Linked DNA regions of Homo sapiens. The protein of the gene in region 2 purifies or fractionates together with the protein of the main gene of each other region. This does not show direct contact. Each region holds a gene or a part of one and is shown on either strand. Other genes may lie near its edges. The genes, in order: KATNIP and KRT84.

The links.
Region 1: the proteins of KRT84 (region 2) and KATNIP purify together in Homo sapiens (tandem affinity purification; one large-scale study listed by IntAct). This does not show direct contact.

The regions. Positions count from the first base shown.
Region 1 is NC_000016.10:27,548,898-27,553,260, reverse strand, and holds the start of KATNIP (katanin-interacting protein), read right to left. Parts: upstream 3,118-4,363; 5' UTR 3,091-3,117; coding exon 3,084-3,090; intron 1-3,083. Other genes in the region: GTF3C1 (general transcription factor 3C polypeptide 1), read left to right, coding at 3,371-3,591. UniProt on the Homo sapiens protein: May influence the stability of microtubules (MT), possibly through interaction with the MT-severing katanin complex.
Region 2 is NC_000012.12:52,379,956-52,382,942, forward strand, and holds part of KRT84 (keratin, type II cuticular Hb4), read right to left. Parts: intron 2,578-2,987; coding exon 2,482-2,577; intron 1,571-2,481; coding exon 1,406-1,570; intron 1,251-1,405; coding exon 1,125-1,250; intron 629-1,124; coding exon 408-628; intron 1-407.

The DNA.
Region 1 (4,363 bases), on a different chromosome or scaffold from region 2:
AAAATGAAATAGGTGGTGATATTAACAAATGTGATTTTTTAAATACCGTATAATGGCATCTGAAAGGTCAACGTTTAGATTTGCATAACTCACTGAACCAACATTTTCTAAACGACCAATGGCTGATGTTATAAAACCATATATGGGTAAAGCAGCCAATGAAAGGGCAAGATAGACCAATGGATTTTAATGTAACACAGTATAAAAGTTCACCTATAAGGCTTCAGATGACACACTGTGACTAACATTTAAGAAACTGCCACTTGTGGCCTGGCATGGTTCTTCATGCCTGTAATCCCAGCACTTTGGGAGGCCAAGGCGGGCGGATCACCTGAGGTTGGCAGTTTGAGACCAGCCTGACCAACATAGAGAAACCCCATCTCTACTAAAAGTACAAAATTAGCTGAGCGTGGTGGCACATGCCTGTAATCCCAGCTACTTGGGAGGCTGAGGCAGGAGAATCGCTTGAACCCGGGAGGCGGAGGTTGCGGTGAGCCGAGATCAGGCCATTGCACTCCAGCCTGGGCAACGACGGCAAAACTCCCGTCTCAAAAAAAAAAAAAAAAAAAAAAAACTGCCACTTGCAGGCCAGGCATGGTGGCTCACGTCTGTAATCCCAGCACTTTGGGAAATGGAGGCAGGCTGATCACCTGAGGTCAGGAGTTTGCGACCAGCTGGCCAACATGGGGAAACCCCATGTCTACTAAAAATAAAAAAAATTAGCTGGGCATGGTGGTTCACACCTGTGATCCCAGCTACTCGGGAGGTTGAGGCAGGAGAATCGCTTGAACCCAGCAGGCAGAGGTTGCAGTGAGCTGAGATCGTGCCACTGCACTCCAGCCTGGGCGACAGTGAGACTTTTTCTCAAAAAAAAAAAAAAAAAGAAAAAAGAAACTGGCATTTGCTAAATTTTGTATAGTATGAAAGGAGAGTGTCTACAGTTATCTGAAAAGGCAATTAAAATGTTTCTCTCTGCTCCAATTATATATTTGTATGAGGCCAAATTTTCTTCATACACACCAGCCAAAACAGCATAACAAAAAACAGTTTGAATCCTGAAGCAGAAATGAGAGTAGTTTTTTCTATTTCTATTGAATAAACTTGAAAAAACATAAAATAATGCTACTCTTCCTATTAATTTTTTGGAGGCAAATGTAATTGTTTTCCATTAAAAATATTATTTATGTTCAGAAGTAATGGGTTTATTGTTGTTGGAGTTTTTTTGAGACAGGGTCTAGCTATGTTGCCCAGGCTGGTCTTGAACTCCTGAGCTCAAGCAATCCACCCACTTCAGCCTCCCAAACTGCTGGGATCACAGGTGTGAGGCACTGCACATGGCCAATTATTATTATGATTATTATGAGCCACTGCACCTGGCCAATTATTATTATTATTATTGGGTTTTTTTGAGACAGAGTCTCGCCCTGTTGCCCAGGCTGGAGTGCAGTGGCAAGATCTCGGCTTCAAATGATTCTCCTGCCTCAGCCTTCCAAGTAGCTGGGATTACAGACATGTGTCACCACGTCCGGCTAAGTTTTAGTAGAGACAAGGTTTCACCATGTTGGCCAGGCTGGTCTCGAACTCCTGACCTCAAGTGATCCACCTGCCTTGGCCTTCCAGAGTGCTAGGATTACAGGCACGAGTCCATGCCCGGCCCAATTTTTATTATTTTTAAAGGAACTAATTAATGGACATCTTAAGATTTTCCCAGTTTAAATCTTCGATATGGTAAATATCATAAATATAAATAAACAAAGCTCTTTGAGGTAAGAGCATACAGGGGTCCCAAGGCTTAAAAGGTTTGAGGACTGATGTTCTATAGCAACATTACATTGACCTTTCCAGAAGGCAAAATGGTAAAGCACATTTTATAGTACCTCTAAAGTACAAAGGGAAAAGATATATTTTAAGCATATGACAGAATGTTCAATTAAAAACATTTTCTCCACACTACATTCAGTGAATATAAAAAGAATGTGGATTCCCCAGGAACAAATTCCCGAGAAGTGAGGGACAGTGCTGTAATTAGAAAAATGATCTGGACTCTAGCCCAGACCCTACCAGTCTCTCTAGACTTTAGTCTTCCCATCTGCAAAGTGAGATATCAGAATAGCCTATTTTCCATTTGCTTCCAATTGTCAATACCATGACTCTAATCAGGGATCCCTAAATGGGGGCCCACAAGCTGTCTCTGGCCTTCAGAGTGACTGGCCAACCCTGTTTTTGAGAAGTACCCCAAGAGGACAATCAGCTGGTGCTTGGTGAGCAGCTTTCCTTTCAGGTGAGGAATTGATTTTCAGTTACAGCCTCAATCCGGCTCACTAGACTCTCCTCTGCAGACATCTGCATTTACAACCTCTGGAATAAAGGGACCCTCAAAACCGGTCCAAATCTCAAGCTCCATAATTCAGCTCCAGAGACAGGGTGTCTGGGTTTCTCACTCACTCTGCTACATGCTGGTTGTTTGACTTTGGGCAAGTTCCTTAACACCTCTGAGCCTCAGTTTCATCATCTGTAAAATGGAACAACGCTGAACTCAAAAGGCTGGTATGAAGCTTAGCGAGGTGTTGCCCAAGAGTACTTACAGAGTTCTTGGTACTGGAAAGCACTTTGTTAAAGGGAGCTATTATTATTAACGCCAAGGCACAGAAAGGGAGTATTTCCTAAACTCCCTTCACCCCCCACACCAATTCCCTTTCCCAGCACCTGACGATTGCACTCCCACGATCAAGCTTGTTTTCATATCAACTCCCAAATCCGACAGTTCCACATCCCAACATTCACAAGACCCTCCTCAGACCTCTACTTCTCCTTCCCCACCCTACATCCCTTCACTGAGCTCCCGGCCAGTACCGGTTTCCTTCACGACCACAGCCGAGCAGAATGGTCACAGCACTGACCACTCCCCCAGGCTCTCCTCCGCGTTCCAGACCACTAAGCCTCCCTATCCCTCATTTCGGAGACCCCCTTGGGTCAGGAAGTGGTGGTCCAGGGGTTCATGGCCTAGGATTCTGCCCAAAGCGCGGTCGGGAGGGATGGGAGAATAACAGCCCGACCTCCCGGAGGGGCCCACAGACACTCACCGTCCATCCCTAGAGGCGGCGGTTCCGGGAGCTCGAACCGGAAGCGGCCTCTACACTGTTTGCAGTTCCCCTGGTTACTGCGGGGCCCCGGACCAATGACGGTGGAGCTCCACTTACTGAGCCCGCCCCCGGGGAGTGACGTCATGCCGGCGCGCTGGAACTCCTCCTCCGAACCCTGGGTCTGACCCACCTCCCCGGGCCCCGGATCGTTGTGCGCAGGCGCGATGGACCAAGGCCCTTGGCGGTGCGTTGCGCATGCGCCCCGGGCGCCGCCGACTGAAGTAGCAATGGACGCGCTGGAGTCGTTGTTGGACGAAGTCGCTCTGGAGGGGCTCGATGGCCTGTGTCTGCCAGCGCTGTGGAGCCGGCTGGAGACGCGAGTGCCGCCCTTCCCGCTGCCTTTGGAACCCTGCACGCAGGAGTTTCTCTGGCGGGCCCTCGCCACGCACCCGGGCATCAGCTTCTATGAGGAGCCTCGGGAGCGACCCGACCTACAGCTCCAGGACCGGTCAGCGGGCGGCCTGGCCTGGCGGGCGGGCGGGCGGGCGCAGGGCCCGGGGGCTGATGGAGCTGGGGGCAGGGCGGGGGAATGGAGTGGGGCTGTGCAAGTACCGGAGGCCTGTTGATTGAGTTGGGGCACGGCGGTAAGGCTAATCTGGGGTCCCTCAGGCCTGGCAGGGCCCTGGAGTCCGATGGAGTTGGCGGGGGGAGGGGGAGAATCTAGTGATGTCCCGTTTTGTCCCTGTGTGTGTTTTGGGGTAATGGCGAACAGGATTGGGGATATTCTTCAGGCTTAAAAGAATGTTTCCTTTACATTGGAGGATAGGATTAGAGCAGGAAAGACACTTTAGAGCCAGACTGGAGACTCCTGAGATCAACAGACCCTCATGGTATATTCATTCGGTGCAGATAGCCTAGGGCAACTCGAGATCTGCGTATCAGGACAATTAGCGATAATGCTAAAAGCTGACATTTATCAGGGACTTCATGGGTGAGGTGCTGTTCTTTTTTTTCTTTTTTGAGATAGAGTCTCTCTCTGTGGCCCAGGCTGGAGTGCAGTGGCGCGATCTTGGCTCACTGCAACCTCCGTCCGCCTCCCAGGTTCAAGCGATTCTCGTGCCTCAGCCTCCTGAGTAACTGGGATTACAGGCATGTTCCACCACGCCCGGCTAATTTTTGCATTTTTAGTAGGTATGGGGTGTCATCATGTTGGCCAGGCTGGTCGCGAACTCCTGACCTCAGACAATCCGCACCTCTCGGCCTCCCAAAGTGCTGTGATT
Region 2 (2,987 bases):
AAAACCTATTTGCCATAAAAAGGGCTTTCTTGTTTGAGTAGATCTGTGGAGCAGTAGTTCTCACCCCTGGTTATACACACATCTGGGGAGCGTTGAAAAACACGTTCTTAGACCCTATCCCAAAACCATTAGATTAAAATATTTAAGGAAATTTATCATTAGTAGTAATTTTAGCAAAATTACTAATGATTCTGGTGCAGCTTATCTAGACTTGCATTTGAGAATCACAGGTCTAGAGCCTTCTTCTGATTCCCTGACAAGGGCAATGCAACTAATGTTTGCAGAGAAGGTATTGTCATCTTTAAAGACTATGTATTTCTGCAGTTCTTCACTGTCCCCTTCTCTTCCTTAGTCTTTCTAGATGCCTAAGTCTGACTTCACTCTCCTGCTGGACTGAGAGTACTCACCGGCTCTCCTCGCCCTCCAGCAGGCGCCTGTAGGTGGCGATCTCGATGTCCAGGCCCAGCTTGGCATTCATCAGCTCCTGGTACTCGCACAGCTGCCGCGCCATGTCCTGCTTGGCCTGCTGCAGGGCACACTCCAGATCTGCCAGCTTGCATTTGGCATCACTGAGGGTCGCCTCGCCCTGCTGCTCGGCCTCGGCCACTGCAGCCTCCAACTTGGCACGCTGCAGGGAAGGCAGTTTGCAGGTAGGCTTCGGCAGTGCCAGGGCATCCCCAGGTTGGGTTAGAAACACGGCCCCTCTTAGTGGGAACATAGCCTGGGGCCAAGGCAGGGATGGACCCCATGGTGGCTGCTTTCCCAGGCACTGGAGACCCTGTAGTTTGATGTCACTATGGGGTAGGGCATTGCTGTTGTTTCCATCCCCACTGACTTTGTCACTGCTGATTTCAGCTGCCCCAGAGTCATGGCATCTAGAGGGTAAATTTATTCTTTCTGTACCACCTTCCCTGCTGGGTCTGCTCTAGCCCTTTACTTCTATGTGGGAAGCTCTCCTTCCCTTCCATATTTTTATCCTCCAGAAAGCCTTCCTGGACTGATCCCTCCATTCCTTGGTTTCTGGGTCTTGATGGTCTCCCTCACCTCATTAGACTTGGGGGTTCCCAAAGCCTGAGGCCCTGGTTCTCCCTCATCTGAGGCTTTCCCTCCTTTCCTTTGCCCACCTGAGCCTTGGCGTGCTCAATCTCTGCCTTAAGCCTCTGGATCAGGCGGGTCAGTTCGTTGATCTCGTTCCGTATGTTGCGCAGGTTGTCACAGTGTTGGCCAGCTGTCACCTGCATCTCTTCATACTGCGGAGAGAGGAGGGTATTTTGAGGGTTCGGAGGTCAGGTCAGGATCACAGCCCCCACTGAGTTGGGGGCTTCAAACCTCCCTGGGCCTGATCTGTTATATATGAGTCATTCCCAGAGCTGCCTACATCCCTTCCCCAGCCTCCACTGCCCACCTTGGTCTGGTACCAGGCCTCAGCATCAGCCCGGCTGCGCCTGGCCACCTCCTCATACTGGGCCTTGACCTCAGCAATGATCCCATCAAGGTTCAGGTCACGGCTGTTGTCCATCTTCACAATGACCGACGTCTCTGAGATGTGCGACTGCAGCAACTGGATTTCCTGTGTTGGAGGATTGGGGAGACAGATGTGCTTAGAGTCTCATTTAGTAGCTGGGACTCTGCCACAGGGGGCCCAGGAAGTGGTGCCAGGGGCAGAGAGCATCACTCATTGGTTCATAAAAAAGCAAGACCATCTAAATTGATGATAAAGAAAAAGACATGTCTGAGAACCATCTCAGGCTGACTTTAGAGCTCTTGTGATCTACTCAGAAACATCCCTTTAACACACTACTTTGCTCAGTAAGTATTAAAACCATGGGGATCTAAGAACATGGTGGAAGAAAGTGGGAGCCACTCTAGGGCTTAAACTTTTCTTAGATTATCTACAAAGTGGCTGGGCTGGTCACAGACCGTTGAGACCTGACAATATTTTAGCACATGGTGGTCTAGGAATTCCTATATCCCAAGCCCTTAATAGAAGAACTGAGGGGCTTGGGACTGGCCTGCAAAGAGAGTTCCAGAGGAGGCTTTCCTCAGCCTCTTCACTTAGAGCTAGCAATTCAGCTCTGGCTGGGCCTATACCAGACTGGACAGATTGTTTATGAAGCAAAAGACAGCTGGTTTGGCTAATTAGGTCAAACACATTTTTTCTTACCTCTCCTGGCAAATCAATTTTTCAGTCTTCTTGTCAGTACACAGGAAGTGACATTTCTAGATCCCAGTCTTTAAATTGGTAAATAAGGAGTTGGATCATAGATCCAAGGAGTTTGACTTGCATCAGGCTGCTGAAAAGCCTGCTCACCTTCCCTTCCCCATTTGAAGACATATTGGCATATATAGCATACAGATTTGAGTGAGAGGAAAGATATATGATAGCAAATGTTTGAAAATATGCTAGCCCAGGCTAAGCATTCAGGGAGTCCAGGCCAAGCATTGATCTCCTTGGGTGCCCTAGAGAAGATGAACCCTCACCTCCATGTAAAGCGTTTTTAGAAAGTCAATTTCCTGAGTTAGGGTATCCACGTTGGCCTCGAGATCAGACTTGTTCATGAAAGCTGCATCCACATCCTGTATAAAACAGAGAAGGATAAATACTCATCGCCTGGGCACTGTTTCACCTTCCCACCTGTGTCTGGAGATGGGTGCAAAGAGGCAGCCACTTCCCACAGATGGTAAGGTCGCTGGGTAGAAGTGAAGCTCAGCAACTTTTGCTCATTTCCCTATTACAATGCCAACATTCCCCCAGGGGCTGCTGGACATTTCCTGATGTTCAGTTAGAGGCAAAGAAAATCTAGATAATCCAAGATACTTAGGTCACCTTTTCATACCTCTGCTCACATGTGACCCAATCCTAAAGAATCTGAGGCTGAACCTGAACTTTGTAGGAAATCTCTTGTTATCTCTGAGATTCCACTGTCTCCACTGTCTTGATGTGAGTAGTCCCAGACTCCACAGGGCTGCCTGAGCAGTTTCCTGGG